Linked DNA regions of Homo sapiens. The protein of the gene in region 3 purifies or fractionates together with the protein of the main gene of each other region. This does not show direct contact. Each region holds a gene or a part of one and is shown on either strand. Other genes may lie near its edges. The genes, in order: MAGED2, RPL36AL, NAP1L1 and NAP1L5.

The links.
Region 1: the proteins of NAP1L1 (region 3) and MAGED2 purify together in Homo sapiens (affinity purification with mass spectrometry; 5 studies listed by BioGRID and IntAct, with this or other methods). This does not show direct contact.
Region 2: the proteins of NAP1L1 (region 3) and RPL36AL purify together in Homo sapiens (affinity purification with mass spectrometry; 3 studies listed by BioGRID and IntAct, with this or other methods). This does not show direct contact.
Region 4: the proteins of NAP1L1 (region 3) and NAP1L5 purify together in Homo sapiens (affinity purification with mass spectrometry; 5 studies listed by BioGRID and IntAct, with this or other methods). This does not show direct contact.

What each region holds. Positions count from the first base shown.
Region 1 is NC_000023.11:54,802,540-54,810,744, reverse strand, and holds the start of MAGED2 (melanoma-associated antigen D2), read right to left. Parts: upstream 3,001-8,205; 5' UTR 2,943-3,000; intron 2,400-2,942; exon of another isoform or gene 2,312-2,399; intron 1,665-2,311; exon of another isoform or gene 1,522-1,664; intron 1,443-1,521; 5' UTR 1,414-1,442; coding exon 1,369-1,413; intron 1,024-1,368; coding exon 532-1,023; intron 1-531. UniProt on the Homo sapiens protein: Regulates the expression, localization to the plasma membrane and function of the sodium chloride cotransporters SLC12A1 and SLC12A3, two key components of salt reabsorption in the distal renal tubule.
Region 2 is NC_000014.9:49,617,458-49,624,959, forward strand, and holds RPL36AL (ribosomal protein eL42-like), read right to left. Parts: upstream 3,170-7,502; 5' UTR 3,105-3,169; intron 1,684-3,104; 5' UTR 1,648-1,683; coding exon 1,327-1,647; 3' UTR 1,073-1,326; downstream 1-1,072. Other genes in the region: MGAT2 (alpha-1,6-mannosyl-glycoprotein 2-beta-N-acetylglucosaminyltransferase precursor), read left to right, coding at 3,812-5,155.
Region 3 is NC_000012.12:76,081,320-76,088,749, forward strand, and holds the start of NAP1L1 (nucleosome assembly protein 1-like 1), read right to left. Parts: upstream 3,367-7,430; 5' UTR 3,248-3,366; intron 2,624-3,247; exon of another isoform or gene 2,514-2,623; intron 1-2,513. UniProt on the Homo sapiens protein: Histone chaperone that plays a role in the nuclear import of H2A-H2B and nucleosome assembly.
Region 4 is NC_000004.12:88,695,087-88,702,678, reverse strand, and holds NAP1L5 (nucleosome assembly protein 1-like 5), read left to right. Parts: upstream 1-4,849; 5' UTR 4,850-4,924; coding exon 4,925-5,473; 3' UTR 5,474-6,766; downstream 6,767-7,592.

The DNA.
Region 1 (8,205 bases), on a different chromosome or scaffold from region 3:
AGCACCCGCTAATCCCACCCCTGTAGTAACAGCCTGACTCAATAGATGTTGGCCATGCTGAACCCTGGATTTGTTTCTCACTGACTTCCAAGCAGGTGTTTCATCTGCCTAGCAGGCCAGGAGCAAACCAAGGGTGGGTGGAGGCTGAGTCTTCTTCTCTTTCTGTGCCCACTACTGGCTCTGCTTGAACCATCCTAGACAAGCCGCTTCACCTCTCTGGAACTCAGCTTCCTTCTCCATAAAATTGGGGCTATGAGAATTACTTTCAAGATTTAATGAGATAACCTGCATAAATGTGCTTAGCTCAAGGCCTAATACAGGGCAGCTACTATGTAAACATAAACTGCATTACATTCAGATTGCACCTCCCCATCAGTCTGCAAGCTCTCTGAAGACAGGAATTACATCACATTACTCTCAGTGCCCCCCACAGCCCTGATGAGCACAGGGATCTTTCTAAATGTTTGTAGAACAAATGAATCAACTGAGAGAGGAGTAGAAAACCAAGGGTGGTGACTGCAGAGGTCTTACCTTTCGGGCTTTCTTGGCTTTGACCTTGGGCCGAGTATCCTGATTCTCCTGAGACTGGGCAGCTGCACTCTCAGGCTCAGGTTCATCTGCTGGGGCCTGAGAGGGTGCAGCCTCAGTCTCCTGAGCCTTTGTATTGACCTTTGTATCAGCCACATGGCTGACCTTTTTGGTCTCAGTGGCAGGCATTGTCACAGCCTGCGGGTCAGCATTCTGTTTCTTGGTGTCAGCTGCTAGACTCTTGTTTTCAGCTGCCAGAACCTGGGTATCAGTCAGCTGAGTAGTAGATGAGGCCTGGGTGGCAGGTGCCTCCCGAGCCTCTGGGGTCTTTGAGACCTCTGTGGCCTTTGAGACCCCAGAGGCTTTTGAGACCTTCACATCCTCTGAGACCTCCAGTGCCTTTGAGGCCTTCGGTGTCTCTGGGACCTCCACATTCTGGGTCACTGTCAACAGAGTCTGCATCATCGAGCTACTGTCCTTTTCTGAAGCTTCAGCCTGCAAGAGGAAGCAGGGAAGTTCATAGACCTTCTCCTCACCCCCAACTAAGCAAATGGCTCCAAAATTCCAAGGCCACACTTCTCTGACCTGTACTGACTCCTACCTGCGGTGTGCTCTGACCACCTCAGCCCAACAAGGCCTCCCTTTCCTCTGAGCAAGAACTGATGGCAGAAGAGGGGCCCGCCCACCTTCTCTCCCTCCCTCCACTGGGCAGGGGGACACCCAGGCAGGAAAGTAGGTGGAGAAGGACAAGGATGGGAGGGGAAGAGCCAAGGGACTTGGGGGCAGCAACAAGGGCTGGAGAGGAAAAGCAGCTGGGGAAAGGACAGAAAGAGGCCTTACCTGGAAGCGAGTTAGACCTGCACCACTCTCGCTTGTGTCAGACATGTCTCAATTTGGCCTGGCAAGAGCTGAGCCTGAAGGGGAGAAGGCCTGGGTCAAGTTGAAGCCCACTGAACGTCCTCTCCCCTGTTGTGCCTGGAGGCTGATCCTCACCTTCCGTAGGTCCCCAATTCCAACCCCCTCCACCACCCCCAACGACTCCGTTCTCAGATACAGGAATTCAAAGCTTCTAAGTCTCAATTCTCTGCAGCCGCACCCTCCCCTTCTCCAGGAAGATGTGCCAGCGCGGCAGCTCTGAGGACCCCGCCCCTTTTCCCAGTGCACCCCCCACCCAGCCGCAGGTCGATAGAGCGCATGCGCGTCGGCTGCAGGGCCGCTCTCAGCCCCGCCCGCTTTCCCAGCACGAGCCCTTTCTTTGATGTCCACCGTGCACATGCGCATTCAGCAGCTGGCTCTTCTCAGTGCTGGCCCTTCTCAACACGCCCCTTTCTAGCGAAACATAGTGCGCATGCGCAATGGTCGTGGTCTCAGTCTGGCACTCTGCCCCAACACACGCCCCTCTCCAGGTCCGCAGTACCATTCGGTCCCGCCCCCTGCCCAACAAGCCTTCCTCCAAAATTGTCGCAGTGTCTGGTGGACCCGGCCCCTCCCCTACTCACGCCCTACAGAGTCCAGTGTCTCTTGGCCCCGCCCTTCTTCCTAACACGCCCCCCTCCAAACAGGCGCATCTTGGTTCCGCCCCTTCCCTATTACACCCCCTCCTCAAATAAATACTGAGCTAGTGATTCCATCTTGGGCCCGGCCAAACCGGGTCCAGTCCCCTCCCTTCCCAGCCGGATGGATCCGGTACGATCCGGTCCTTAAGGCAGGTTTTCTCCAGATCCCAGAGGGTGGGGCCGACCCCTAGCGGGGCTCTCATCCAAAAGCCGACCCGGCTGCTCACCTCGTCCTCCTACAATTCCCGAGTGCGTCCACTCACTCCAAGCCCCTCCGAAACTCGGAGACTGCCCTCCCCTCTCTAGGCCGGAAGTGGTCCCGCCCCTTTCCGCCTCCCTAGGGGGCCTCCGTCCCAGCCTGTCTGCCCCTCCCCCGCTCCCTGCTCCTCATTCCTTATGCCCCCCTCCGTATTCCCTTAGCCTGGCTCCCTACTCCCTATTCCTACCTCACATTTCCTATTTACTCCAGAATTCCTTCTTCCCATTTCTTACATCCTCCTCCGTGTTACGTTTGCACACCCTGCCCCTCAGTATTCCTTAATCCCTCTCTGCATCCCCGATTCTCTTCTCTGGATCTTCACTCCCCCTCAGTGTTCCCCTCCCTCCTTGTATTCCTCGTCCCCCTCCCAACATTCCTGGTTCCCCGTTTTTCTCCCCTCCTCCCTCCGCTAGTCTCTGCTCCCAGTCTGTACAGCCTACTACTTTCTCAGTCGTCCTCATTGCCTACACCCCACTCCAGGTCACCTCTGCTTCAGCTGCAGTGGTGCAGTAAGAATTGCTCATCTGCCTGGCTATGGGTTCGAGGGGTCTGGAACCACTGTCTGACCTCCATAAAACCCCAATATCAACGCCCCTCACCTTGTCCTCCAGCGAGTTCGGGATGCGTCTGCCTTCTCTAAGTCCCTCTCGAAGTCTCAGCCTCCTGGACTAGAGCTGCAGACAGCCCAACCCAGCCCAGCCCCTTTCCGCAGCCCCCTGCCACCCCCCCTCGCCTTCCTCGGGGGTGGGGCAATGGGGCCCCGCTCAGGGCTGTCTGACGCCAAAGCCCATGTTTATGCCACTGTACCAGGCTCAGTCTGAAGCTCTTCCAACTCAAACCGCCCCCTGAAAGCAAGTCATTCATTGAATTTATTTTTATATCTTCATTTTTTCTTATTACAAAGGTAATATGTTGTTCTTTTGTTGTTGTTGTAAAAATTCAAACAATGCAGTAATATATAACACACCAATGAAAGGCCACTCATCTCCCAGAAATAACCACTATTAACATTTTGCTATCCAGATTTTTTTTCTATTCGTATACTAATTATTCAGGTTCTCTCTCCGACAAATGGTACACTATACATACCTTCTGTTCTGCGACCTGTTTTTTTCCAGTTATATATAAAACATCTTTCCGTTAGTGCACATTTTTCTAAACAGCTGCATGATCTTTTCTTGCATAGATGTCCCATAATTTATTGAACCAGTCCAGTACACATGTACATTTAGATTGCTTGGTGCACTTTTTGTTATTTATGGTATTTTTTGCTAGCTCAAATGCTACAAAAAAGTCTTCCATTTTGATGCAAAATTTGTCAACTTACTCCTAAAAAGTAAATGGATAACATTCCCGCCAGCAATGTCTCTCCTGTACATGTCACATATTACAAATATTTTTCATGTTATTTATGATAATTTTTGCCAAACAAAAATGTTTAATTATTATGTAGTCAAATATATCCATTTTTCCTTCATCACAACTGGATTCTGCTGCTTGCTTAAAGATGCTTTTCACACTCCTATAACAAACCCCGTTTTTTTTTTCAAGCACTTTTGTGGCTTTATTATTTACATTTAGATGTTTGATCATTTCAAAATTTATTTTCTATACGGATTCAGCTTGATTACTCTTCAAAATCATAGTCTCTTACCTCTACATCATGTGCAAACTAATCCATCTTTTCCCTCTCTGCTTTGAAATGGCACCTCTATCACATAATAAATTCACATAACCAATTGGATCTGTTCAAGAGAACAAAATAAGATGTAAAATAATAGGAAATAGACAAATCATCATTAATTACTGAATATATAAATGCAGACCTGGAAAACCCAAGAGCATCAACTAAAAAGTTATTAGAAACCATAATAAAATTCAGCACAACTGTTAGTTGCAGAAATAATATTCAGTGCCTTTCCACATATAAATGTAATTCAAATGGACACAAGTCTTCTGCTTTATGTGGTCACCTTTTACTATGTAAATAACATATAATGAATCCCTGTGTTCCATGGATAATTCAAGATAGACAAACACACAAATTTCTTGCATATTCAAGGCAGGCTTCTGTTTTCCTGTCTTTTCTCTTTCTCTGAATTATTGCTTTCTCCAAGTGTGTGATATCAGTTCACCATGTTCTTGCCTCCTAGATTTTCTCCCTTATCCACACTAGACATAGCCCCTCCTTTTCTTCTACTTCTGGCATCTCAAATTCCCCACCCCTTCCAAATCATGGCAAGTTGGCAAGTTTAGAATGCCAAGATGAGGACTTTGGTGTTGATCCTGAGAGCACCCAGGAGTTACTAAAGAATTCTAGGCAAGGATACAGCATAGGTTTGTGTTTTAGAAAGAACACCTAGCTGCTATATGGAGTGTGGATTAGGTGTTGTCTTGGAAACAGGGAGAGTGCTTATGACTTTTGTAGTCATCTAGGTAAGCAATGATTGTGCTTTGGCCTAGAGTGGTGGCAGATAGTGAGAAGTGATTGAATCGAGGAGATAGTAAAGAAGTAAAAAGTAACTGGACTTGAGTAACTGGATTGTGAAGAGAAGGGCAAGGAGGAGGGGAGTGTCAAAGGGAACTCTTGGCGATCTGATTTGAGAGATTGTGTGAATGGTAACCCCTTTCACTGAGATCAGGAATACTGAAGGAAGAGCGGGTTTGAGGAGCAGGTTAGACAAGAACTGAACATTGCTTTTGAGGCACCTGTGGCATGTCCAGGTGGAAATGTACCACAGGCAGTTGAATATACATATCTGAAGCTCAGAGAAGTGGTCTAGGCTGAGGTTATAGATCTAGGAGTCATCAGTACATAAATAGTTCTTGAATTCCTGAGAAAGGGTAACAGCACCCCGGTGAATGCGTAGTGCTAGAAGAGACATGGGCCCACGGAAGAGCCCTGCAGTCCAACAGCATCTTTGGTATAGGTGGAGGAAAAGAAACTCATGAAAGAGGCTGATAAGGAGTGACCAAAGAGGCAGAGAGAAAAACAGGAGAGGGCCGGGCATGGTGGCTCACACCTGTAATCCCAGCACTTTGGGAGGCTGAGGTGGGCAGATCACCTGAGGTCAGGAGTTCAGGACCAGCCTGGTCAACACGGTGAAACCCCATCTCTACTAAAAATACAAAAATTTAGCTGGGTGTGGTGGACCACACCTGTAGTCTCAGCTACTCGGGAAGCTGAGGCAGGAGAATCGCTTGAACCTGGGAGATAGAGGTTACAGTGAGCCGAGATTGTGCCGCTGCACTCCAGCCTGGGTGATAGAGTGAGACACCATCAAAAAAAACAAACAAACAAACACAAAAAAAAAAACCGGAGAAAGGAGTGTCACAAAAGTAAGGGAAGAGATTGTTTCAAAAGGAGGGAGGAGTCAAGGTCAATAGTGATGAATGGTGCCAAGAATCAAGAAAAGTAAGACCTGAAAAAATGTCTGGGGATTTTGACGATCAAGTGGTGGTCTCTGGTGACCTTGGAAGGAATAGTTTCAGTGCACATGTTTGTGGCATAGCTTGCTAATTGCTTACCCTAGTATTCATCCTCCTCTTCTTCCTTAGTAATAAGTCACCTGATTTTTAGCTAGATACATAGCCTCCCAGAATAAAGGCCATGAGGACTAGGGTCACACTCTAAGGATACTGGATTAGTAAACTAAAAAGAACCTGGATCCGTAACAATTTCATGAAGCCAACGTGAACTGCCTACCTCTGGATTTCTTTTAGGTGAGGCAAATAGATGTATGTCTTATTTAAGCTATTGTTATTTCAGAGTCTATTCCATGCAACAGTTTCCTGATTGCAGTGAGTTGAGATATGAATAGCAGGTGAGGTATACATGACAATGGGTATGGAATGCTTTCCCAAGAAACGCCTGAGCTTGATTTCAAGGCTCTCCCAAAATCCAGCCCTGACTGCTTTTCCAGCCCTTTTCCTGCTGTTTTTCTGAGAGTACTAGATATAGTTGCCTATATTCCACCTAAACAGAACACTTCACTATTACCAGATATGCCCTGCCTTCTCTTGCCTAGGAGCCTTTGTTATGCAATTTTGTCCCCATGGGGAACACCCTCTGCTACAACTACCCTTCTGGTATATCTATGCTCGGTTACAACCTCCAACATTTTAAGTTTCACAATGTTTTAGGTCCCAGTTGTGGTCTTTGGGATCCTGGGGTAATTTAAAGGAATACAGAGTCAGAACGTTAGGAGATATTATTGGATTCAGGAAGTCAGAAGAAATCTCAGTCCAAATCCATCAGAGAGGCATTCCCAAAGATTGTCAAACCCAAACTTCCCCAGACCCCTCTCAATTCCACCACCTTCATAACATAATACCATTAACAACCTTATCTTATGACCTGGGGATCAGAGGATAGGAGGCAGCCTTATCGGGGGAGAAAAGACAAATTAGTTCATAATCTTTACCCTTTGACCAGAGAGATTTCCTCCCACCTTCTCCTTGTGAACTCTTGGAATCTTGATCTTCAGCATTCACCCATAAACTCTGAAGAACCTAGGTCACTGGGTCTCAGGCCCATTTCTAGCACCCATAAATCAGTAGAGAAATATCTGAGACCATATAGATCCTACATATCAACTAAGAGGAAAGATGAAAAGCCGTTATCATCAGGCAGCTCTGTTCTGGAGATAAGGAAAGGCAGGCTAAGGATTGCTTAGTGCAGAATGTAGAGATGGAACTGTCTAGTCCCACAGGCATCCAAGACTCCAGACTCCTGAAGCTCAAATGGAAAGCCCAGAATATCCCCACCACCAATCCTATCCTAGCACATTTACTTTCTCCTAAACTATACAGAATCCGTATCTCTGAATTTTGGAAAATTTGGGAGAGGGTAGCAAAGGTTTCCTTTTAAGGCTGCCTGTCATTTCTTTAGTCATTTAAACCATGCAGCTCAGCATAGAAATCAACTTTAAATTGGACATCAGACTTTCTTGTTCTTCAGATTTCCATAACCATTCCCACCACTGGGAAAGGCCTAATAATTGTTCCTTCTCCTAGGCCCCATGCCCCACCCCTGTTGGACCCTTTCTGTCCCCCAACATGCTGGCAACTTCTCTCCTTTCCATTTCCAGGCTTCTATATCCTCTCTCTCTCTCTCTCTCTCTCTCTCTCTCTGTCTTCCCCCCACCTCCCCCAGGGTCTCACTCCGTCACTCTGGTTGAAGTGCAGTGGTGTGATCCCAGCTCACTGCAACCTCCACCTCCTGGGCTCAAGCGATCCTCCCACCTCAGCCTCCAGAAGTAGCTGGGACTACAGGCACATGCCAACACGCCCTACTAATTTTTGGGGTTTTGTTTGTTTGTTTGTATTTTTGGTAGAGATGGGGTTTCACCATGTTGCCCAGGCTGGTCCAAAATTCTTGGACTCAAGCGATTCACCCGCCTCAGCCTCCCAAATTGTTGGGATTACAGGCATGAGCCACCGTACCTGGCCTATGTCTTCTTTCTTGAGCTGCTGGTGAAATCTCATTTTTTCCCCTTTTATATGTAGGGCAATTTAGTTAACTTTGTTTCACTCTAAGCCCTAAGGGTTACCTTTCCACAGCAAAAATGACATTTTGTCAAACAAAAGACAAATTTCCCATAGATGAGGAAACCTGCTACCCACTTTTGGACTAACCCTCATTCTCCCCTGTTCTCTGTATATTGAGTCCTTCCTCAGCACAAGCTTGTGAGCTATGATTAGGCCATTCAACAGAAAATGAGCACCAACTATGTATTAGACACCTCTCCAGAGGTGGCCCTTGCTCTTAAGGGGTTTATTTTTATACTGTGTGAACATTAGCCTCATTTCACAGATGGCAATATTAAAAGTGAGAGGGGTAACTTGCCCAAGGCAAGGCGA
Region 2 (7,502 bases), on a different chromosome or scaffold from region 3:
GTGATGGTGATGTATTTAAAAATAAACTCGTATACATGATTTTTACATTTTTTTTTACAATCAAATGCAGCTATAATAGTCAGTTATTGGGATTATGTGCAAACCATCTGTTACTCCTACACACCCTAGCCCTTTGCATTCCTCTAACTACTGTCATTCCCATGTATCTTAGTCAACTTAAATTCATATACAAAAGGCAGAATTTGACCTCTTATAACCCCTACCTTTTCCCAGTTTTTCACTTGATACTGAACTTTTCTTGCCTTTCATAATTACAAGGCTCAACTTTTTTCATTGTGAATTTCAACCTTCTTGTTTTCAGTCATAACTCCTAAACCTTCCTAACTGTCAAGTTCTGGCCAAGCACAGTAGCACACTGTAATCCCAACCCTTTGGGAGGCTGAGATGGGAGAATTGCTTGAGCCCAGGAGTTGAGACCAGCCTAGGCTCAAGAATTGCTTGAGCCCAGGAGTGAGACCCCATCTTTAAAAAAAAAAAAAAAGAAATAAAATTAGCCAGGCAAATTCGCCAGGCATGGTGGTACCCAACTACTCCAAGGCTAAGGCAGGACCTACAGAGCTACAGAGCCTGAGAGGCCACAGTAAGCCATGAATGTGCCACTGCACTCCAGTGCGGGTTACAGTGACAGATTGTCTCAAAAAAAAATTTTTTTTTGAGTACCTCCCAGAGTGTTCTAAGAGGTTCAAAAAACAGTTTATGCTATCTTGGACTTTCACTAGATTGAGAACTTTAGTGTGAAGTCAATTTTGAACTATCCTTTTATATTCAAGGCCACAGTCTCTAACAGTACTGTCCAAAAGAACTTTCTGCGGTGGAAATGTTTTACATCTGTGTTGTCCAATAAACTAGCCACACGTGGCTGTTGAGTACTAAATCTGACTAGTGTAACAGGAAACACATTACCTGGCTAGCGGCCCCTACTAGACAGAATATTTGGTCAGCTCTTACTATCCCCCAACTTCCATCCTTTGCCCAACCCAGCCTGCTATACACAAGCCTAGCGTTATCTTGTTCCTTCTCTTGCAAAATCTTAAAGATCCTTCTAAGCTGCTCAATGTTTATGAATTCATTCAACATTTGAAATTGACCAGAAAACAAAAAGTAGTAAAGTAGTATTTTCCCTTCATACATATATAAACTTGTTAGTAAAGTTTGAGGTGGGACTACACTAAACATGGAATTCTATTTATAAGTAAAAACCACAAAAAGTTTGCGTAAGAATATCACTGTATTTATTTTCCCTCGGGTAACTTTTCTATGGCTTCACCATTTTCTCTTCAAAATTGAAGAAAAATATCCCAAAGTTTAGAACTGGATCACTTGGCCCTTTCTCTTCTTATCTCCTCCCAGTTCAAAATGCTTGCATCTCTTAATGGCCAGCATCCTCTTGGATCTGCAGTTAGGCTCAACACATTCCAGCCTTAGCACAATCTTCTTTGTGGTCTTAGCCTTCTTCCGGAAAATTGGCTTTGTCTGCCCACCATAGCCACTCTGCTTCCGATCATAGCGCCTCCTTCCCTGGGCATACAAAGAATCCTTGCCCTTCTTATACTGTGTCACTTTGTGAGGCTGATGCTTGCCACACTTCTTACAGAAGGTTCTTCGGGTTTTAGGTACGTTGACCATCTTTGCAGCAGGGCTGTTTTGTCTATATGATGAAAACTGTAGTAAAATATTTAAAATAAGATAGCAGACGTTAAACATTCCGAAAAGTGAAAGTGCTATACAAGTATATACAGGAAAACCGTACACATAAATGAGTAATATATAAATCCACCACGTACTCTTTTTCCATATGAATAAACGCACATACAAGTACATACCTTTTTGAAACACTTCGTTTAAATTACTGGAGGACTAATTTGTCGACCTAAAGAACTGAGGCAAGGCCGAGCACGGTGGCTCATGCTTGTAATCCCAGCACTTTGGGAGGCCGAGAAGGGCGGATCACCTGAGGTCCGGAGTTCGAGACCAGCCTGACCAACATGGAGAAACCCCGTCTCTACTAAAAATACAAAATTAGCCTGGCGTGGTGGTGGTGCATACCTGTAAGGAGAATCGCTTGGGCGGGGTGGGGAGGGGCGGAGGTTGCCGTGAGCCGAGATCGCACCATTGCACTCCAGCCTGGGCAACAACAGCGGAATTACGTCTCAAAAAAAAAAAAGAACTGAGGCACAATTCATATAAGTAGAATGTTTATTTGGGGCAAGTTTGAGGATTGCAACCCAGAGCACAGATTCAAAATGCCCTGAGTAGCAGCAGTTGCAAGTGGGTTTTTAGAGGAAAAAATGGCAGTTCCTAAATTGTCTACCAAGAATTTACATTAAAATAACACAAGCGATTGATTGGCTATACATCATTCTTTTCATGACAAATTCCAGGAACGCGGACATAATGGGTGAAGCAGCTAGTCAGGAATAAAATGCCAGGCATTAAGTGGGGAGGTGTCTGAAGTCCCATACTGCTGTCTCTCTGGGCCCGGCAAATTTTGCACATCTCAAATAATTAACAATGCTCCGAGCCATTCTTCTTTTCTCATATAGAACAAGACTCACGAAAACCGACAGCAGCAGCTTTAGGAGGCCCAATACAGTCCGTTTTCCGTACGAAATGAGTTTAATTTATTGTGACTGCTCCAAAAGAAAAGTGCGGTTCATCTAATTTTCTTCCGAAAAGGAAGTTAAGGACCAGAGTTTCTTTGACCCCCTTCCCCCCACCCACCTCCTCCATTTTCCAGCTCTAGAGAATGGCTGGGGCAGCGCGCGACGTTGTAGCTACGGTTACGACCCGCCCCGTTCCTTCTACGAGAACCACATCAGCGTAGTATCACTTTTCCCCTCCGAAGCACAGTCACCCGTCAGCAGCCTCGAGGGCTGACGTGTCCTTATCAAGCCGGCGCGCCCCGCGATTCTATAGCCGCCATGCCTGAGACCTTTTTCCTGAAGGGAGAAGCCTGCTCTCGAACTAAGGCCGGCGAGGGCCATAGGTCTCGCCTTCCCTTTCCTAAGAAGGCCTAGTCCTACCCAGGATTCTGAGCAAGGGAGGCTCCTATTGGAGCCGCTACAGCCTCGTTCTTAGCTTACCGAGAAACAGCGCCCGACACCTGGCCCTTCGCAGCTCTCGCCTTTCGCAGCTCTCGCCTAACAGGAAAGGGAAGAAACAGGCGGAAGTGGGAACTGCACCTGAGCGACAGTACTGCAAACCAATAGGCAGCCGGCCACGGCGGTCAGGCGCCTTCGGTCGCGTCTGGAAAGCACCAACCAACGGTCTAAGGGGCGGGCCGGAGGGGTGTGGGCCGGAGGGCCGCGGTGTGCCGCGGGGCAGTTGCGGGTTGTCATAACGGTCCCCGCCGGAGTGAGGCGAGGCCGCGTCGCTCAGTTCTGGCCGTCTAGGGCCCCTGTAAGGATGAGAGCGCAGAGGACGCAGGGCCGCTGGAGGCGCAGGTAACGAAGCTAGGGTGCGGTTGGGACCGCGGCTGAGCTTTTTCCGGGACCCGTGGTGCTGAATGGAGAGGACGGAGACGAAGCCGAGCCGCGGCTCCTAGCGGCGGCGCCGATGCTCGAGCTGTAGCTGCCAGGCGAGGATGTGTGGAGCGCAGGCGGCGCGGGGTAAATGAGAGGTCTCGGGCCCCAGGACCCCCGGGGCCCGGGATGAGTTAGCGAGGGCAGCCGCGGGGGCCAGTTCCGACCGTGACAGGCCAAGGCGACGGCCGCCGCCCGCCCGCCCCTTCCGTGCAGAAGCAGCTGCTCCTTTCCGCGCCCGCCCGCCTGCGCTCCCGGCCCTGGAGACCATGAGGTTCCGCATCTACAAACGGAAGGTGCTAATCCTGACGCTCGTGGTGGCCGCCTGCGGCTTCGTCCTCTGGAGCAGCAATGGGCGACAAAGGAAGAACGAGGCCCTCGCCCCACCGTTGCTGGACGCCGAACCCGCGCGGGGTGCCGGCGGCCGCGGTGGGGACCACCCCTCTGTGGCTGTGGGCATCCGCAGGGTCTCCAACGTGTCGGCGGCTTCCCTGGTCCCGGCGGTCCCCCAGCCCGAGGCGGACAACCTGACGCTGCGGTACCGGTCCCTGGTGTACCAGCTGAACTTTGATCAGACCCTGAGGAATGTAGATAAGGCTGGCACCTGGGCCCCCCGGGAGCTGGTGCTGGTGGTCCAGGTGCATAACCGGCCCGAATACCTCAGACTGCTGCTGGACTCACTTCGAAAAGCCCAGGGAATTGACAACGTCCTCGTCATCTTTAGCCATGACTTCTGGTCGACCGAGATCAATCAGCTGATCGCCGGGGTGAATTTCTGTCCGGTTCTGCAGGTGTTCTTTCCTTTCAGCATTCAGTTGTACCCTAACGAGTTTCCAGGTAGTGACCCTAGAGATTGTCCCAGAGACCTGCCGAAGAATGCCGCTTTGAAATTGGGGTGCATCAATGCTGAGTATCCCGACTCCTTCGGCCATTATAGAGAGGCCAAATTCTCCCAGACCAAACATCACTGGTGGTGGAAGCTGCATTTTGTGTGGGAAAGAGTGAAAATTCTTCGAGATTATGCTGGCCTTATACTTTTCCTAGAAGAGGATCACTACTTAGCCCCAGACTTTTACCATGTCTTCAAAAAGATGTGGAAACTGAAGCAGCAAGAGTGCCCTGAATGTGATGTTCTCTCCCTGGGGACCTATAGTGCCAGTCGCAGTTTCTATGGCATGGCTGACAAGGTAGATGTGAAAACTTGGAAATCCACAGAGCACAATATGGGTCTAGCCTTGACCCGGAATGCCTATCAGAAGCTGATCGAGTGCACAGACACTTTCTGTACTTATGATGATTATAACTGGGACTGGACTCTTCAATACTTGACTGTATCTTGTCTTCCAAAATTCTGGAAAGTGCTGGTTCCTCAAATTCCTAGGATCTTTCATGCTGGAGACTGTGGTATGCATCACAAGAAAACCTGTAGACCATCCACTCAGAGTGCCCAAATTGAGTCACTCTTAAATAATAACAAACAATACATGTTTCCAGAAACTCTAACTATCAGTGAAAAGTTTACTGTGGTAGCCATTTCCCCACCTAGAAAAAATGGAGGGTGGGGAGATATTAGGGACCATGAACTCTGTAAAAGTTATAGAAGACTGCAGTGAAAATCACAGTTACAAAAGCGACAGTCTTCTATTTTTGATATTTGTCCAAACAGGACATACAATTGAATAAAAGAGTTTAGGAACTGGTTTCTGCTTTAATACAAAAACAAAATCTTGTAAAAGGTGTCCAAATACATAGTAATCTTTTCCAGTTATGTCTGATTAAGATTTAAAACTGAAGGTTTCATTTTGGGAGTAGGGTTTTAAAGCTCAATCTGTTATCTGCTAAAATTGATTATTGTTGATATGAGAGAAGAGGGGAAATTTTATTTAAATTGCATTTATTAATCTTTTTATCTGAAACTTTGTACACTTTTCCACTTTCAAAACCTATTTTAAGTACAGCAAAATTTATTTAAAACTGTCATAGCAGTAAAAAGTATTACGATGAAATTGTTAGGGTATTAATGGAACAAACCCAGTTTCACTCTCTTGACACACTTATTAGGAAGGGATTGCTTCACTGGTTTAATAATTTAAAAGTTATGTTTGTTAAACACCCTGTCAGAACAGTCATTTTCAGTATTAGATTCCTGTACTATTGTGTTTTGAGTGTGTTTTGGAACCTTCATAGAACACACTTTCTTTTGGAATGTATTTGATTGATAAGAAAGTTTAAACATTGTTTTCACCTCAATGTAGAAATACAGTGGTTTTGTTTTTTTTTTTCTTTTAGTGCTGACAAAATAAAATACTCATTTTTGCATAAAAAGGTTCCTAATCCTTTTGCAGAATAAGTTTTGTTTACTCTTTATACCAAAATTCAGTGAAGGCATTCTACAAGTTTTGAGTTAGCATTACATTTTAATATTTACTATTGCTACATTGTATAATTGAGTTTGAAATAAAACCCAGCTTATGACAATGCATTCCCTGTGCAAGAAACTGTTTGGCTTTCAAATTACCCAGGCATTGAAAATGAATGATAAAAAGTTGCTGTGTAAGGGAAATACAGCCTAAATTGTTTTTGAAAGCCAGAAATGATACAAAGTTCAGTCATGCCAAAGTGAAATACTTTCTAGTGCCAGCTTTAACTTAAATCATACGTTTTAAAAGGACAGATACAGAAAATTATAGGAAACAGGCTTAAATTTTGCTCCATATTTAATGTAGACGTTTATAGAAGTTTCCCTTAATTTGTAATTGCATTCAACCGAGAATTTCTCATAAAAGACTAATTTCTGTGTAAAGATATTACGGGCTGGGTGTGGTGGCTCATGTCTGTAATCCCAGCACTCTGGGAGGTTGAGGCAGGCAGATTGCTTGAACTCAAGAGTTTGAGACCAGCCTGGGCAACATGGCGAAAACCCATCTCTACTAAAAATACAAAAAATTAGCCGGGTGTAGTGGTGCATCTGTAGTCCCAGCTACTTGAGAGGCTGAGGTGGGAGGATCCTTTGAGTCTCGAGGCAGAGGTTGCAGTGAGCCTAGAGCGTGCCACTGCACGCCAGCCTGAGCAACAGAGCAAGGCTCCATCTAAAGAAAAAAAAAAAAAGTTACTTAAACTTGTAACTATTAAATGGCAGTCTCAAAATTATTGCATCAATTTAAGATTCATAGTAGTTTAAGAGCACATATGCTTATCTAAGGTGAGGCAAATAGTTCTCTTGCTTTACGAGCTACCTTTAGACTTACCCACGGCCCAGTCTGGTGCAAGATTTTGCCTGGGGGTTATAAATAAGGGTGAATCAGGAGGCTTTGTACCTATTTCTGGTACTCTGACCTGACATCACTAGTTCAAAGAACTAAAAAATTAGGTTATTTCCAGGACTGAGCTAAGAAGGCCAGAGTGTGAAGTAGTAGCTGTTTTTGAAACAAATAGATCAGCTCCTGGCTTTGGGGTTAGTGATTAAATCAACAAATATTTCCCTTTCTGTATTTCCTTCCTTTCATTTTCTTTGGCTGCCCTAAAATTTTTTGTAAGAAAAAAACCTGTTAGGATCTTCTCTTTGCCTCACATTTTAGGTGTTATAAAGGAAATTGATTATGCAGGAGGCTGAGATGAGAGGATCACTTGAGCCTAAGAGTTTGAATCCAGTCTGGACAACATAGCAAGACCCATCTCTTAAAAAAAAAGAAAGTGATTAGGAAACACTGGCTTTTTTTTGTTTTTCTGTGTAATAATGTAATGAAGGCAATTTTCCTATCAGAGCAAATTGCCAGATTTTAAAAATTCCAGTTTTACTCTTAAATTTCTATAAAACCACAAGATGTTTTAATATTTCAATAACTTCTAAGAAATACTTCAAAATTGAATTTTGAAAATCATTACTAAATAACTAAATCTATTATATATACTTTATGTAACAAAAATATATATAGTTTGTGTGACAAAATATAGAGCTGA
Region 3 (7,430 bases):
TGAGCTAATAATACACACAGAATTTAAAACAATGCCTGAATAATCAATCAGTGTTGCCTATTACATTATTTATCCCTGTTATGCTCTTCTGTACCCTCTTTAGAAAATAATTCCAAGACTGAAATTATAACTCTAGACAGGTGTGGTGGCTCACACCCATACACTCAGCACTTTGGGAGGCCAAGGCAAAATCGCTTGAGGTGAGGCATTTAAGACCAGCCAGGGCAACACAGCAAGAGCCTGTCTCCACAAGGAAAAAATATATATAACCCTGTTTCCCAATAAAAATTAAAATGTACAAAACTTCTGAATAAGTAAAAATATATACAAATATGCAGGAAGTAAAAGGCAGAGTTGGTAACCAAAGGTATAGAAGCCATTTTCTATGGCAAGCCCACTAATGTACTCTAATGTTCTGTAGTCATTGTGCTAAACGACTTACATATGGATAGGTGTAAAGTAACAACTCTCTCCTTCTAACCCCTATTCTGCCCAAAAACTTATTTAGATGAAACTAGTTTGAAATGGAACTTAAAATCATCAAATTATAACAGGTTCCTTTGTGTAAACGCTGTATTACTCTTTGACCCCTTTACCCTTTCCTTCCTTTATAGCTCTCATCACAATTTAACATTCTACATCTAAGCAACCAATTTGCCTCTTTTGCTCATGACATAAGATACATGTCCATACAGGTGCTAGATAGTTACCCAAAGACTAAACTGAGAACACAATTACAGGTTTGATTAAACTTGAAGATCTGAATACACTGATCATTAATATTTTGATATTGATGAGTCATTCTCTCTAATCCTTTGTTTCAAATTTACAACCAAGAAGTGAATAAAATATTGTATTTTGACATCTTCAGACCTTTGAAGTCCAACAGATACTGCTTCTTTAGCCCCTTCTACAAAAAGACCCTTAGTTTTGAATATATTTTGAGAATTTAGAATCAACTCAGTTTTACCAGGAGCCAACAGGAGCAAGCTGAATAAAATGAGATGGCATTTTGGATTACATTAGTTATGGTACAGGTATTCGTTTCAAAAATCTCATTAAAGGCCAAGTGCAGTAATTTACCATATTCAGTATTAGCTTTATAATTCTGCAAATCAATGGGCCTAATATAAAAATAGGCACTTTGTAGCAGATAAAATTTAGAAAGATATTCAAATTGGTATAGTGAAAACTTTTAAATTTCTATTTACTAACATAATGTTGACTTGGAGAATCTATGAAAGTCAGGTTTTATGACAGAAGATGTCCAAGTCCACCTACCAGGGTTTAGTTCCATACATTCTCCAAAGGACAGTATTCTTAGAACTAAACTATAGATTTAGGCCATTTATTTAAACTTGGGCAACTTCAAACAAGCTTGAAACACAAGAGTGCCTTGAAAATAACTGTAAAAGTCATTTACTTCCCTTCGATTTTTAAATGGTACCCTATACATAAAAGGTTTTTCCCTTATTCAATCAAAGGTAATGTATATTACTTCCAAAGTATAGGAGTATTAATTTAAGCTGACCAAAAAAAGAGGACCCAGATACTCGTTTCCAAAGATGTTTTGAATCCACCTATTTTCAAAAGGCCAAATTTCATTTTACAGCTCTTGTGAAACCAGGCAAGCAGTGTAAATTTTAAAATGCAGCAGTGGGATATCTTCAAATGTAGCAGTGAGATTTTTAAAATGTAGTTGTTTCAAAACTGATCAGTGACCGTCTAAAATACGGGCTCCTTGAGGACATCCTGCGCCTGGTTCATCCTTTTTGCACTCTCAAAGTCTAGCCTTCCCAGATGGGACCTCAGTCCCAGCCCCCCTACACTGCCATCCCCCAGATCTTTAGGGCAGTAGGGTTCATTGACAAGGTTGCAGGCTACAAACTTGGCAAAGTTTATACTAACACCTCATTCCATCCCACCTCCCATCTTAAAAAGGAAACCGTTAAGTATCTTATTCTAGTGACTTCAATAAAGGAACTAATTTATAAGACAGCCAAGAACAATTAAAGTCATAAAGGGCCAAACATTTTATTTTCATCTAAGAACCGTTTGCAGGGGTGGTCCGATCTTTTGGCTTCCCTGGGCCACACTAGAACTGTCTTGGGCCACACGTAAAATACATTAACTAGCTGATGAGCTTTTTTTTCCAAAAAAAAAAAAAAAAAAAAAACCTCATGAATTTGTGTTGGGCCACATTTAAAGCCGTCCTGGGCCGCGGGTTGGACAAGCTTGGTTTAGGGGTTTAGATCGATCAGGATCAATACTCCCCAAATAAAAAACCCTGATCAAGACACCCATCTAACAGTACCTGGGAAACACAATAACAACCTTTTGCTAATAACAGTTAATATAAGCGCTATATACGCGTTAACTTTTTAAAATACTAGCAGTGGAGGCCCTTCCTTATCATCAGCTAACATCCACAATCTCTGGTACCAATAAAAAGATTAAGACCAAAGAGAAGCAGGGAAGAGTTTGAAACCCAGGGACAGGGCTTACTCGCTTACCCTTCCTTTTCACATTCCACCGTCTCTACAACTTTCAAAGTAAGCACAGACCGAGGGCAAGGGTCTCCAACCAGGCCCAGCCAGTGGCCATGAAGCCCATTACCACGTGTGGAGCGAAGCCGCCGGGGGTTTCCCCTCCCCGCGCGGCCGCCCCCAATGGGCGGAGAGCCCGGGAGCGTCGCAGCCTCCCCCGCCCCCTCCCCGCCTCGGGGACTCGTCCCTCCACAGCCCCTCCCTCCCGTCGGAATTCGCAGCCTCCGCCGTTCTTTTCATCTCCCAGCGGCCTCCCTCCTGGTATTATTTTTGAGGGAAAAGCAGGGGGGTGTCCAAGAGGCGGCCGGCTCTGCACTCGGCCCGGCCCGTACGCCGGGGGCCTCCCGGTCCTCGCGGCGCAGCCGAGTCTCAGGGCACCCGGGCGTCACCGCGGCCTCGCTCCGGTCCACGCGGAAAAGACGGTGGAGCTCAGAGAACCTTAGGCCTCCAGGCCGCGCCAACCCCTACGTCGCCTCAGCCGTCCCCGATAAAAGCGCTGGTCGGCCCCGGGGCCCCTCTCAGGCTCCGGGGTCCGGACTCCGCGGTCCTGTCCGACCTCACAGGACGACCCCGGAGGCCACGGGCGGCCAGCGGCCCCGACTCCCGGCTCCCAGTCCCTCCATCCCTCCGGCCCTCCCATCTGCGCAGGCCGCCCAGCCAACACCACGTTCCCCCTTCCCTTCCAGGCCCCCATCCGTTACCGGCGACTAGTATGGGGAGCCAGGCGGCCGGAGCTGCGCAGGCAGTGACTCAGGGCGGCAGCGGCAGCAGCAGCGGGAGGAGCAGGAGGCGGCGCCGCGAGCAGATGGCGCTAAAAAAGACCCAAGAGCCCGCCGCTCGCGCTCATATACAATTAGCGTCAGCACGTAGGGCCCTTTCGCCGCCCTCCTCCCGGCCTTGTAGTCTCCCAGCAACGCGAGCGAGAGGCGGGTCCAGGCCGGGTTGCCTAGCAACTGAACCGTCCTCCTTCCCCGGCGACCTCCATACCCCCACCGAGGACTCCTGCAGCCCCGAGGCCCAGGCGCCGCGCTTGGGCTCCTCTGGTTCCCGCCGGTGTCTAACCTCCTCTGTTAAGCACCCCACCATATCTTTTCTCCCTGCTGAGCCGGAAAGGAAATTTCAACCCCATCAGTTGTGGGGAAGGCCTGGCCCGCGTGCCCGGCGCCCGGCCCGCCCCGCCCCCTTCGGCGTTGTGCTGGGAACGCTCAGGGCTGGCGCCAGTCGCCTGGTCCCTCGCTCGCCGCAGCCTAGACGGCGGACGCTCCCTGTCAAGGCCTAATTCCTGCAACTCGCCGGCCCCCGGTAACCGTTTTCCTTCCCCGCCTAAGAAAAACAGTTTTTTCCTCTAGACCACTTCGGCGGCCTCTTCTGACAGTTTTGCTTCTCCTATGCCAGCGGGTCTCCGCGCCTTTAGGGGGTGCTCGTCATCCTTTGCCCCCCAACCCCCCGCCACATCCTCGTAACTGATGTACAGTCCGTCAGTTCGGCTTCAGTTCTTTTGACGGATGAAAATGGCATATTTGTGCATTCTCTGGATGCGTTATAATGAGGACACTCAGTACGTCCGTTGTTTCATCTTTCTGAAAAAGTAAATCACATTAAATCCTCAGGCTTGTAAAACCTCATAGCTAATTTTCAAGTGATGATGAATTGACTAATACTAACTCAAAAAGTTGTTCTCAGAGTATGGTCTGAGGGTCCCCAGACCCTTTCATGGGGAAGGTCAAAACTATTTCCATATTAATGTCAAGACTGCCTTTTGCATTCTCATTCTCTCACAAGTGTACAGTGGGGTTTTCCGGAGGCTACGTGACATGTGATAAGGAAACAGACTGAAAATAGAAGCAGATAGGAGAATCCAGTCATCTGCGGTTAAACCAGACGTTAAAGAGATTTGCAAAAACTCGATTTGGGGGCAAGGGGGAGTAGTTATTTTTCATATAAAAATTATTTTTTGTTAATATTTGATTGCTTTATTGTTTTTAAATGAAATACTCTTAAAATTTCTCACTTTTAATTTCTGATATAAATATCAGTATCAGTAATGCACATAAAAGTTCTTTGGGGTCCTCAACTTTTAAAGGAGTGTAAAGGAATCCTAAGACCACAAAGTTTGAGAACCTCTTCTCTAAATCTTGCATTTATTGAAACTTCAAACTGCCTAGAATCCCCTATTGTAATCCACACATTTAGCAACTTTATCTTCCGTTTTAGGGGATACAATGTTTTCCTTGGCCCTCCAGAACCTCATTGAAATTATTTGCCTTCCCACTCTATACTGCAGACGACTCTGTTTATTCATTCATTTTAGTTTTTCATATACAATTCCTTTGTTGTTCTCATAGCCTATTCCTGTACACCCTTCTCAACAATGATGTAATGATACAAGGAGCATAATAGCATCAATAATGGATCTTCAGGAAGAACCCACTATACATAAACAAGGTAGACCAGTGCTCAGTTTGAACATAAATTTGACACATTAATTTCAATAAGAACTTCAGGAATGTTGCATTTTAATCAAAGCTGTGCACGATGCAAGGTAATTAGCATATTAAAATGAACTAAATAACTTTCACTTTCTTTCCATAAATCTTTATGGTAGCAGAATTTCTGAGACAAAATTGAGAAGTTAGCTTTTGTGGTGGTTTTTATCCCACACCAGAGAGCCTCATCAATTTTCGGCACTTCGCTCATGAAGGCTCTGGATTTTTTAGGTTTCACCACCCCCCCACCAACCCCTATAACTTAGGTGTTATCATTACCAGTACATATGCTCTTTCCCCCTTTTCTCCAGCTTCCTCTTCTTTTTTCAGTGTATCCTAGCCAATCTAAGAAACTAAACAATAAAATATTTCTAATAATGCATGCCTTTGTAATATAGTCTTTTGAACCAGTTTGTAAATCTAAGTCTTTGCCATTAAAGTTCAGGGAAGGGCAGACATTTATGCATTCATTCAACAAATATTTATGTCAGGCACAACTTCGGACTCTGGAAATACAGCATTTAGTAAGAAAGACACGGTTCTTGATTTTATTGAAGTTATGGTCTAGTGAGGTGAGGCAAATGATTAGAGATAAAATAATTTTACTAATAAAATATTAGTAATAAAACAATTTCACTTATCAATAATAAATAATTGATAAGTGAATGCTATAAAGAAAATAAAATGAGAAAAGGGGTAGGAGGTGACTGACCTGAAGATACCTTTGAGCTTTTTTTTTTTTTTTTTTTCGACGGAGTCTCACTCTGTTGCCCAGGCTGGAGTGCAGTGGCGCGATCTCGGCTCACTGCAACTTCTGCCTCCCGGTTTCAAGCAATTGTCCTGCCTCAGCCTCCCGATTAGCTGTGACTACAGGCAGGCGCAACCACGCCCAGCTAGTTTTTTTGTGTTTTTAGTAGAGATGGGGTTTCACCATGCTGGTCAGTCTGGTCTCGAGCTCCTGACCTCAAATGATCCGCCTGCCTCAGCCTCCCAAAGTGCCGGGGTTACAGGTGTGAGCCTCTGCATCCGGCCACCTTTGAGCTTTTTACATTGGCCCCTCTTATACCCCCAAATCACACAATGTAGTTAACTCATCTAACTTAATTGCAATAAATGGTGACCCTGGTCACTGATCTTGGGCCATGCGAAATTTTCTGTTGCAGTTCCTTTTCTCATGCTCTCTTTGGAAGCATATATACTAAAATTAAAGGTCCTTTTTTCTCTATCTCCCATGATTTTCATTTGGTAGACTTTTATAGCATTGTAGCCTGGAGGCTTAGAGGGGTGGCTTTGGAGTCAAACAGCCTATTTTGTCCCCATTTTTCTACCACTTAATAGCTGTGTAACTTTGGATAAGTCAGTTAGCCATCCCAGGTTTCATTTTCCACATCTGTAAAATGGGGAAAATAAGCATGCATTTTTCATAGGGCTGTTGTGAAACTTAAAAAAATTTTTTTTTTTTTAAGTCAAGAGGGATCTTGGTATATTACCCAGGCTGGTCTTGAACTCCTGGACTCAAGAGATCCTCCCACTTCAGCCTCCCAAAGTGTTGGGATTACAGGCATGAGCCACCTTGCCCAGCTGTGAAACTTTTGGAGACAGAGTCTCACTCTGTCACCCAGGCTGAGGTGCAGTGGCGCAATCTCGGCTTACTGCAACCTCTGCCTCCCATGTTCAAACAATTCTTGTGCCTCAGCCTCCCAAGTAGCTGAGACTGCAGGTGCGCGCCACCACATCCCACTAATTTTTTTGTATTTTAGTAGAGATGGGGTTGCACAATGCCCAGGCTGGTCTCAAACTCTTGAGCTCAGACAATCCACCCGCCTCGGCCTCCCAAAGTGCTAGGATTACAGGTGTAAGCCACTGTGCCTGGCTCAGCTGTGAAACTTTAAATAACACATTTAAGTTGCTTAACATAATGCCTGACATATATAGTGACCGCTCAATAAAAGGTAACCATTTTTAACCTCTTACTGAAGTTTTGTTTTTATTTTTGTTTTATTTAAAGGTTTAAGGAACTACCCCGAAGTCTTCTGATAGTGTCTGACACTTTTTGTGACATATTTTATTAAAAGCTATCTAGTCACAGCTTTTAAAAGACATTTTCCTGAGCTGAAATAATCCACACCAATTACCACAAAAATATTATAGTCAACATTTCTCAATATTGGATAAGAACTATGAAGATCAACAAGAAATTTGATGACAAAGATGGTATTTTACCTGTGCTTGTGTCTGTGTTTCAGCCCCTATGTAGTAGAAAAAAAAGCATAGGCTTTAACATCAGACAGGTATAGGCTCCTTCAACACTGTGACCTTGCAAAAGTACTTATCCACTCTGATCTTCAAGCTTCCCTATCTGAAAAATGCATTAATAATTATAATAAAATCTGTGTCT
Region 4 (7,592 bases), on a different chromosome or scaffold from region 3:
CTTGCAATATAGAGAATTTAGAGAAACAACACTAAACATCCATTAATATGAACATGGACAAGGAAAAGATGGTAGAGTCATATGATGGAAACCATAAAGCAGAGCACTTTGATGGAATTAACTAGATCTAAACTTAGCAAAATGAATAGAATCTCAAGAACAATGCTGAGTGAAAATCAAGTATTTGCATGTTCAGTAAAATATGATGGCATTTATGTAAGTTGTGTTTTAACACTTAAAACAATGCTACTTATAAAAGGTAGTAGCTCTGTCACTCAGAGCTTGTGACCCTTGGGCAAGTTATTTAACTTCTCCATGCCTGTGTCCTCATTTGTAAAATGGGGGAGAGTAAGAGTAGATAACACATGGGACTGCTTTAGGATTAAATGAGTGAATACATGTAAGAGTGCTTAAACCAAGGCTGGTGTATAACAATTACTTTGTAAGTATTAACTAGTATTATCATATTGTTTATGGATATGAGATTTTGCTTATGAGTATGAAATTATAAATATGATGCATACATAAGATGTGTAAGTGTTCATTTTTAAAAACAAAGACATTAATGTAAAAAGATCTTTGTCTAGCCAGGTGCAGTGGCTCATGCCTATAATCCCAGCACTTTGGGAGGCTGAGGCAGGCAGATGGCTTCAGCCCAGAATTCAAAACCAGCCTGGGCAACATGGCAAGACCCAGTCTCCACAAAAAATTAGCCAGGCCTGGTGGTGCATGCCTGTAGTCCCAGCTGCTCAGAAGGCTGAGGTGGGAGAATCACCTGAGCCCAGGAGGTCAAGGCTGCAGTGAGCCATGATCACGCCACTGTACTTCAGCCCGGGTGACAAAGCAAGACCCTATCTCAAAAAAAAAAAAAAAAATCTGTTTTAACATACATGTTTATTATAAAAAGTATAAAAACATAAAAAAAACATATCAAATTCATAAGAGTTTTGTCTGTGTAAGAAAGAAGGGCGGGAAGAGGGGAATGGAATTAAGGGTATGTACAACAGTATCAGTAATTTGGAATTAAGGGTATGTACAGCGGTATCAGTAATTTTTTTCTTTTATTAAAAAATCTGAAGCAAATACCTGTTGACTGTGGATCATATATACAAATGTTTGTCACATTAACTTTTTGTATTTTAGATTAAAAACAATTTTAAAACTTCACATCATGAAGATAGTTATTTACTACTTATCCATCACTGTAATTTAATACTTCATAAAGCTACATTTGAATTATTGGGTTTCCTCCAAGCAGATAGTTTTTACATGTTCACCATCCACACCAATAACTAGCCAACAAATGGTGTAATACAGTGGATAAGTGAGGCAGACAGGGGTTCAAATCCAGGCTCTGCCATCTTCTGTATCTAACTAGTAAGCCTCCCTTTTCCCATTTTTAAAATGGTATAACTGTGCAATCTTTAAAATAAAGCCACTAATGTAAAAAGATTATTGTGCATGTTAATCATTGATGCTGAAAGTTTCTCACACCGTATATAACACCTCACTTCTCTGAAACCCATGACACTAAACTAATGACATTTTTCTGATACAATTACCCAAGAGAAACACCATCACAACAATTTTTATTACAGACTGTGATGGTTAATTTTATAGGTCAACTTGGCTAGGCTATGGCATCCAGTTGTTTGGTCAAACACCAGTCTGGATGTTGTTAAGATATTTTTTTAGTTGGGATGAACATTTAAATTCATTGACTTTGAGTAAAGCAGGTTACCCTCCATAATGTGGGTAGGCCATATCCAATCAGCTGAAGGCCTTAAGAGAAAAAGACTTGAGGTCCTCCAAAGAGGAAAGAATTCTCCCTCCAGACTGTCTTTGGACTCAAGATTTAAATATTAACTATTGCCAGAATTTCTAGCCTTACAGCCTACCCTGCAGATTTCGGGTTTGACAGCCCCCACAATCACATGAACCAATTCTTTAAAATAAATCCCTCCTTGCCCCCACCCCCCTCGGCTTCACACCCTGTTGGTTCTGTTTCTCTGGAGAACACTGACATATAGATTTCGGTACTAAGAAGTACAGTACTACAACAGCAAATACCTAAAAACGCAGATGTGCCTTTGAAATGAGGAAATAGGTAGAGCCTGAAAGAGTTTTGAGGAGCTTGATAGAAAAACCTAGATTTCACTTAAGGGACTATTGGTAGAAATAGCTCAACAGTCTCAGGAAGCAGCCTGAGACTCTCACCATCTACATGCCCAATCTTGAACCTTTTAGCTAGCAGCCTCCGGTCTTCCTTTTTAGCAACACTAAACAGATTAAAGCCACTTTGGGAAACAGTGTGGCAGCTTCTTATGAAGTTAAGCGTACATTTACTGTATGACCCAGCAATCCCACTGCTAGGTGTCTACCCAAGAGAAATAAAAGTCCATGCTCATAGAGAAACCTGTAGATGAATGATCACAGCATTATTCACAATTATGAAAAACTGCAAACACCACAAATGGGAATACTACCCAATAATAAAAAGTAAAATAAAAAATAATAAAAAATAAATTTACTAATATATACAACAACATAAATCAATCTCAAATGTACTCTGCTAGTAAAAAAAAAAAGCCAGGCTCAAATGGCTACATTCATATGATTCAATTTACCTGACATTCTGGAAAAAACAGAGGTACTGAGACAGAGAACAGCACAGTGCTCACCAGGGCTGGATGCTGGGGAAGGGCCACAACGGACTTTTAGGGGACTATTTACTGTTCTATATCTTGATTACTACAGTGCTTACATTACTGTATTTGCTTGTGAAAGCACGCCCAAAAGGACAAATTTTACTGTTATGTAAATGATACCTCAATAAGCCAGACTTTTTAAAAAACAGTCTGGTTTAACACTAAGTTTTAAGATCTGTTGAGACAGGAAAATAAAAATCTTGAAAGATGAACATGCCCTAAATATTTTAAGCAAGTTAAGTTAGTCAAATGAATTTAACCAAAATGTGGGATTTTTTTTTTAAAGTCTGTCACAACATCCATACTATAGGGGTCAAAAGGCCTGTTTTCTGCCCCTGCATCTGCCAATTAAGTGATACATGCAGTAAGATGATTTCACTGTATTTGCTTCTAAGTTTACTATCTGTAAAATGAGAAACATCATTCCTAATCTCAAGGCAGCTGTAGCCATCAAAAGAGATGATATATGGGAGTGAGAAAGAAGGCAGAGAAGATGGTGAGCCAGTAAGAAGATGGTGAGCAGGGTAAAGAAGACGGTTGGGGGAAGGTGGTGAAGACCGTGGGGGAAGGTGGGGAAGAAGACAGATCGTGGGGAAGAAGATGGTGGGCAGGGTGGGGAAGAAGAGGGTGGGGCTGCGTGGGTGGGTGGGGAGGAAGAGGGTGGGGCTGGGTGGGTGGGTGGGGAAGAAGAAGGCGGGGCTGGGGGTGGGTGGGAAGAGGGTGGGGCTAGGGGGTGGGGAAGAAGAGGGTGAAGAGGGTGAGGAAGAAGAGGGTGAGGAGCGTGAGGAAGAAGAGGGTGAAGAGGGTGAGGAAGAAGAGGGTGAGGAGCGTGAGGAAGAAGAGGGTGAAGAGGGTGAGGAAGAAGAGGGTGAGGAGCGTGAGGAAGAAGAGGGTGAAGAGGGTGAGGAAGAAGAGGGTGAGGAGCGTGAGGAAGAAGAGGGTGAAGAGGGTGAGGAAGAAGAGGGTGAGGAGCGTGAGGAAAAAGTTCGGTGGGGGGAAGGTGAGGAAGAAGGCAGTGGGTGAGGAAGAAGGGGGTGAGGAGGGTGAGGAAGGTGGGGAAGAAGAGGGTAAGGAGGGTGGGGAAGAAGAGGGTGAGGAAGGTGGGGAAAAGGACAGTGCGGCGGGGGGAAGGTGAGGAAGGAGGCAGTGAGTGGGGAAGAAGGCGGGGAAGAAGATGGGCAGAAGGTGGGGCATAAGTCAGTGCGGGGGAGGGGCAGGAGGGAGGGAGAAGATGTGGTGTGGAAAGGTGTGAAAACAGATAGTGGGGAAGGCAGGGAAGCAGACGGTGTTGGGGGAAGGCAGGGAAGACGAATGTGAGCGGGGTGGGATAGATGGCACATGCTTTAACCAAGATAAGAGGGGGCCTTGGCCCTGGGCCCCATGCTTTAGAAAGACTTGCTTTTTTTCAGCCCTCCTCAAGCTTTAGTCCTTCCCACAGGCCAAAGATTCTGTAGGATCTTCTAGAACACACACCAGGACACCGGGAGCTCTGAGATTTCCTACCCAAATGGCTCCAAAACTGCTTCCAGGGGAGTCCTGCTGAGAGACGACCTTGCCACCAAGATATATGCCGCTAGGTGTGTGGGATGGCCAAGGGGGTGTTGGGTGGACACATAGGTACAGAGCTTGGATATGCAAGCTGCCCTATCCACACACATGCACCCCAGGTCCCCAAAGGGGTGGAATGGAGCCAGCTTGCCCGTTCCTCCACTGCATGGAGAGGAATGCGGAGGAATCTAAGAGGTGATCAAACGCCAGCTATGGAGAGAGATGCAGAGGAAAGCGAAGACATATGCACTGGCATTTGTAGAAGGGCCTGGATGGGGGTGAGGAGCACACGGAAAATGGTCTGAGGCCATCTATGCAGTTCCTGAAGAAGCACCTCGGGCAGCTACTGACACTCCCAGCCCAGCTCTACAGGGGTGGGTACATGGGTGGGCTGGGAACAGGGTGTCTGTCCAACAGGCGGGTGTTGAGGGCCCAGAAGATGTCAGGGTAGCAACAGGAGGAATCTGGTGCAGTATGAGCACACGGCCGTCAGCTGATAGTGGGAAGCCAGTCAAGTGCCGCGAAAGCAGGAGGCGGGGCCGCGGCCAACGTCATTCCCGCGGCCGCACGTCACCGCCACTTGCCGCATCCGCAAGATCTCTCTGGACCAGCTCGGGTGCAGGGCCTCTGCGGGAGCCCTCCTAGACCTCTGCGGCTTCTCCTCTAACATGGCCGACTCGGAAAACCAGGGGCCTGCGGAGCCTAGCCAGGCGGCGGCAGCGGCGGAGGCAGCGGCAGAGGAGGTAATGGCGGAAGGCGGTGCGCAGGGTGGAGACTGTGACAGCGCGGCTGGTGACCCTGACAGCGCGGCTGGTCAGATGGCTGAGGAGCCCCAGACCCCTGCAGAGAATGCCCCAAAGCCGAAAAATGACTTTATCGAGAGCCTGCCTAATTCGGTGAAATGCCGAGTCCTGGCCCTCAAAAAGCTGCAGAAGCGATGCGATAAGATAGAAGCCAAATTTGATAAGGAATTTCAGGCTCTGGAAAAAAAGTATAATGACATCTATAAGCCCCTACTCGCCAAGATCCAAGAGCTCACCGGCGAGATGGAGGGGTGTGCATGGACCTTGGAGGGGGAGGAGGAGGAGGAAGAGGAGTACGAGGATGACGAGGAGGAGGGGGAAGACGAGGAGGAGGAGGAGGCTGCGGCAGAGGCTGCCGCGGGGGCCAAACATGACGATGCCCACGCCGAGATGCCTGATGACGCCAAGAAGTAAGGGGGGCAGAGATGGATGAAGAGAAAGCCCACGAAGAAAAAAGCCTGGTTTTGTTTTTCCCAGAATATCGATGGACTTAAAAAGGCTCAGGTTTTTGACCAAAATACAATGTGAATTTATTCTGACATTCCTAAAATAGATTAAATTAAAGCAATTAGATCCTGGCCAGCTCGATTCAAATTTGACTTTCATTTTGAACATAATAAATATATCAAAAGGTGTTAAAGAAAACTGAATTAAACCCAAAATTATGTTTTCATGGTCTCTTCTCTGAGGATTGAGGTTTACAAAGGGTGTTAGCAGATGCGAAGTAAAGAACGTCACTTTGAAACCCATTCATCACACAGCATACGCTACACATGGAACACCCAAGCCATGACTGAACACGTTCTCAGTGCTTAATTCTTAAATTTCTTTACTCATGACATTTCGCAGTGCAGAGAAGGCAGAACCCAAGAAAAACGTCATCTTTGAGACTTTGCTTTTGTAACGCAGACATCAGCTTTACACTTCACAGGAGATTGATGGCATTGAGGAAGATTGCAATGGAGATCATGACACTACTGTTAATAAGGCCAGGAAAACTGCCATTTCAAGTTCTGAAAAATGTTTTGAGTATTTGAATTTAGAGAAACAACATGGTTCCAAGAAGGAGGGTGTAAAACCTGTAAAATACTGTCAACATATGTATTCATTAGTTACAATCTCATGTTTGTGTTTTCTTAGTACTGTCTATTTACAAACACGTAAAAAATACCCCAAATATGTTTAAGTATTAAATCACTTTACCTAGCGTTTTAGAAATATTAATTTACTTGAAGAGATGTAGAATGTAGCAAATTATGTAAAGCATGTGTATCCAGCGTTATGTACTTTGCGCCTTGTGACGTCTTTCTGTCATGTAGCTTTTAGGGTGTAGCTGTGAAAATCATCAGAACTCTTCACTGAAGCTAATGTTTGGAAAAAATATATACTTGAAGAACCAATCCAAGTGTGTGCCCCTACCCCCAGCTCAGAAGTAGAAAGGGTTTAAGTTTGCTTGTATTAGCTGTGCCTTCATTATTTTGCTATGTAAATGTGACATATTAATTATAAAATGGTGCATAATCAAATTTTACTGCTTGAGGACAGATGCATACAGTAAGGATTTTTAGGAAGAATATATTTAATGTAAAGACTCTTAGCTTCTGTGTGGGTTTTGAATTATGTGTGAGCCAGTGATCTATAAAGAAACATAAGCTTAAAGTTGTTTATCACTGTGGTGTTAATAAAACAGTATTTTCAAAAAATATATATAAAAGACTCGGTACTGTGACTGCCTGCATTCAAATCCCAGCTCTGCCTCCTATTAGTAATGTACCTTAGGCAACTCAGCTAATACTCTCAGTGGCCAGTTTCTCCTCATCTACAAAAGGGAATAGGAATAGTCCCTTCCTCATGGGTTACTATGAAGAGCAAATGGATTAATACATATAAATCCTATAGAATAGCATCCAAACCATGGTAAGTGCTGAATAATTCTTAGCTATTATTATTACATGAAAGATAAAGACAGTGATTGGAAATTCAATCCTCCTCTCCTGTTACAAAATGGGAGAAAGAGACATCACTACATCCCTCCCTATGTTTTTGATTCCTTATTATGAGAGAAGAATGTGGCCTTTAATTCAGAAATGCAGGAAATTAAATAAACTATCTTGTTTTGGTTTCCTCAATATAATATCAGGTTTTTATCATCTCCCAGAAAGGATAAAAAAGGCTATTTCAACTTTATGTTTGCTTCATTCTGAATGAAGCAGAAAGTTTTTTTTAAAAACTGGACTCCAGAAAAATTAAAAAATCAGATGCCATTTGCTTCCTTTTCCCTGAAGGGTTAAAATTACAAAGAAGCAAAATTATATTGCTTTATCCTAGGGAATGGAAGGCAGCACTGACCTGTTGCTAATCACAACAGATTGTTGAGTACAAACAACCTTAAGGTAAAGTTAATCTTCATTATGCTCAGGCCAACCAAAAGAGAAAATCAGAATAATACGTTACATACAAAGTTCTGATTATCTTAATCATATGATTATCTTAATAGAGAAAAAATCTAATAAAATTTAATATTGATTTCTTA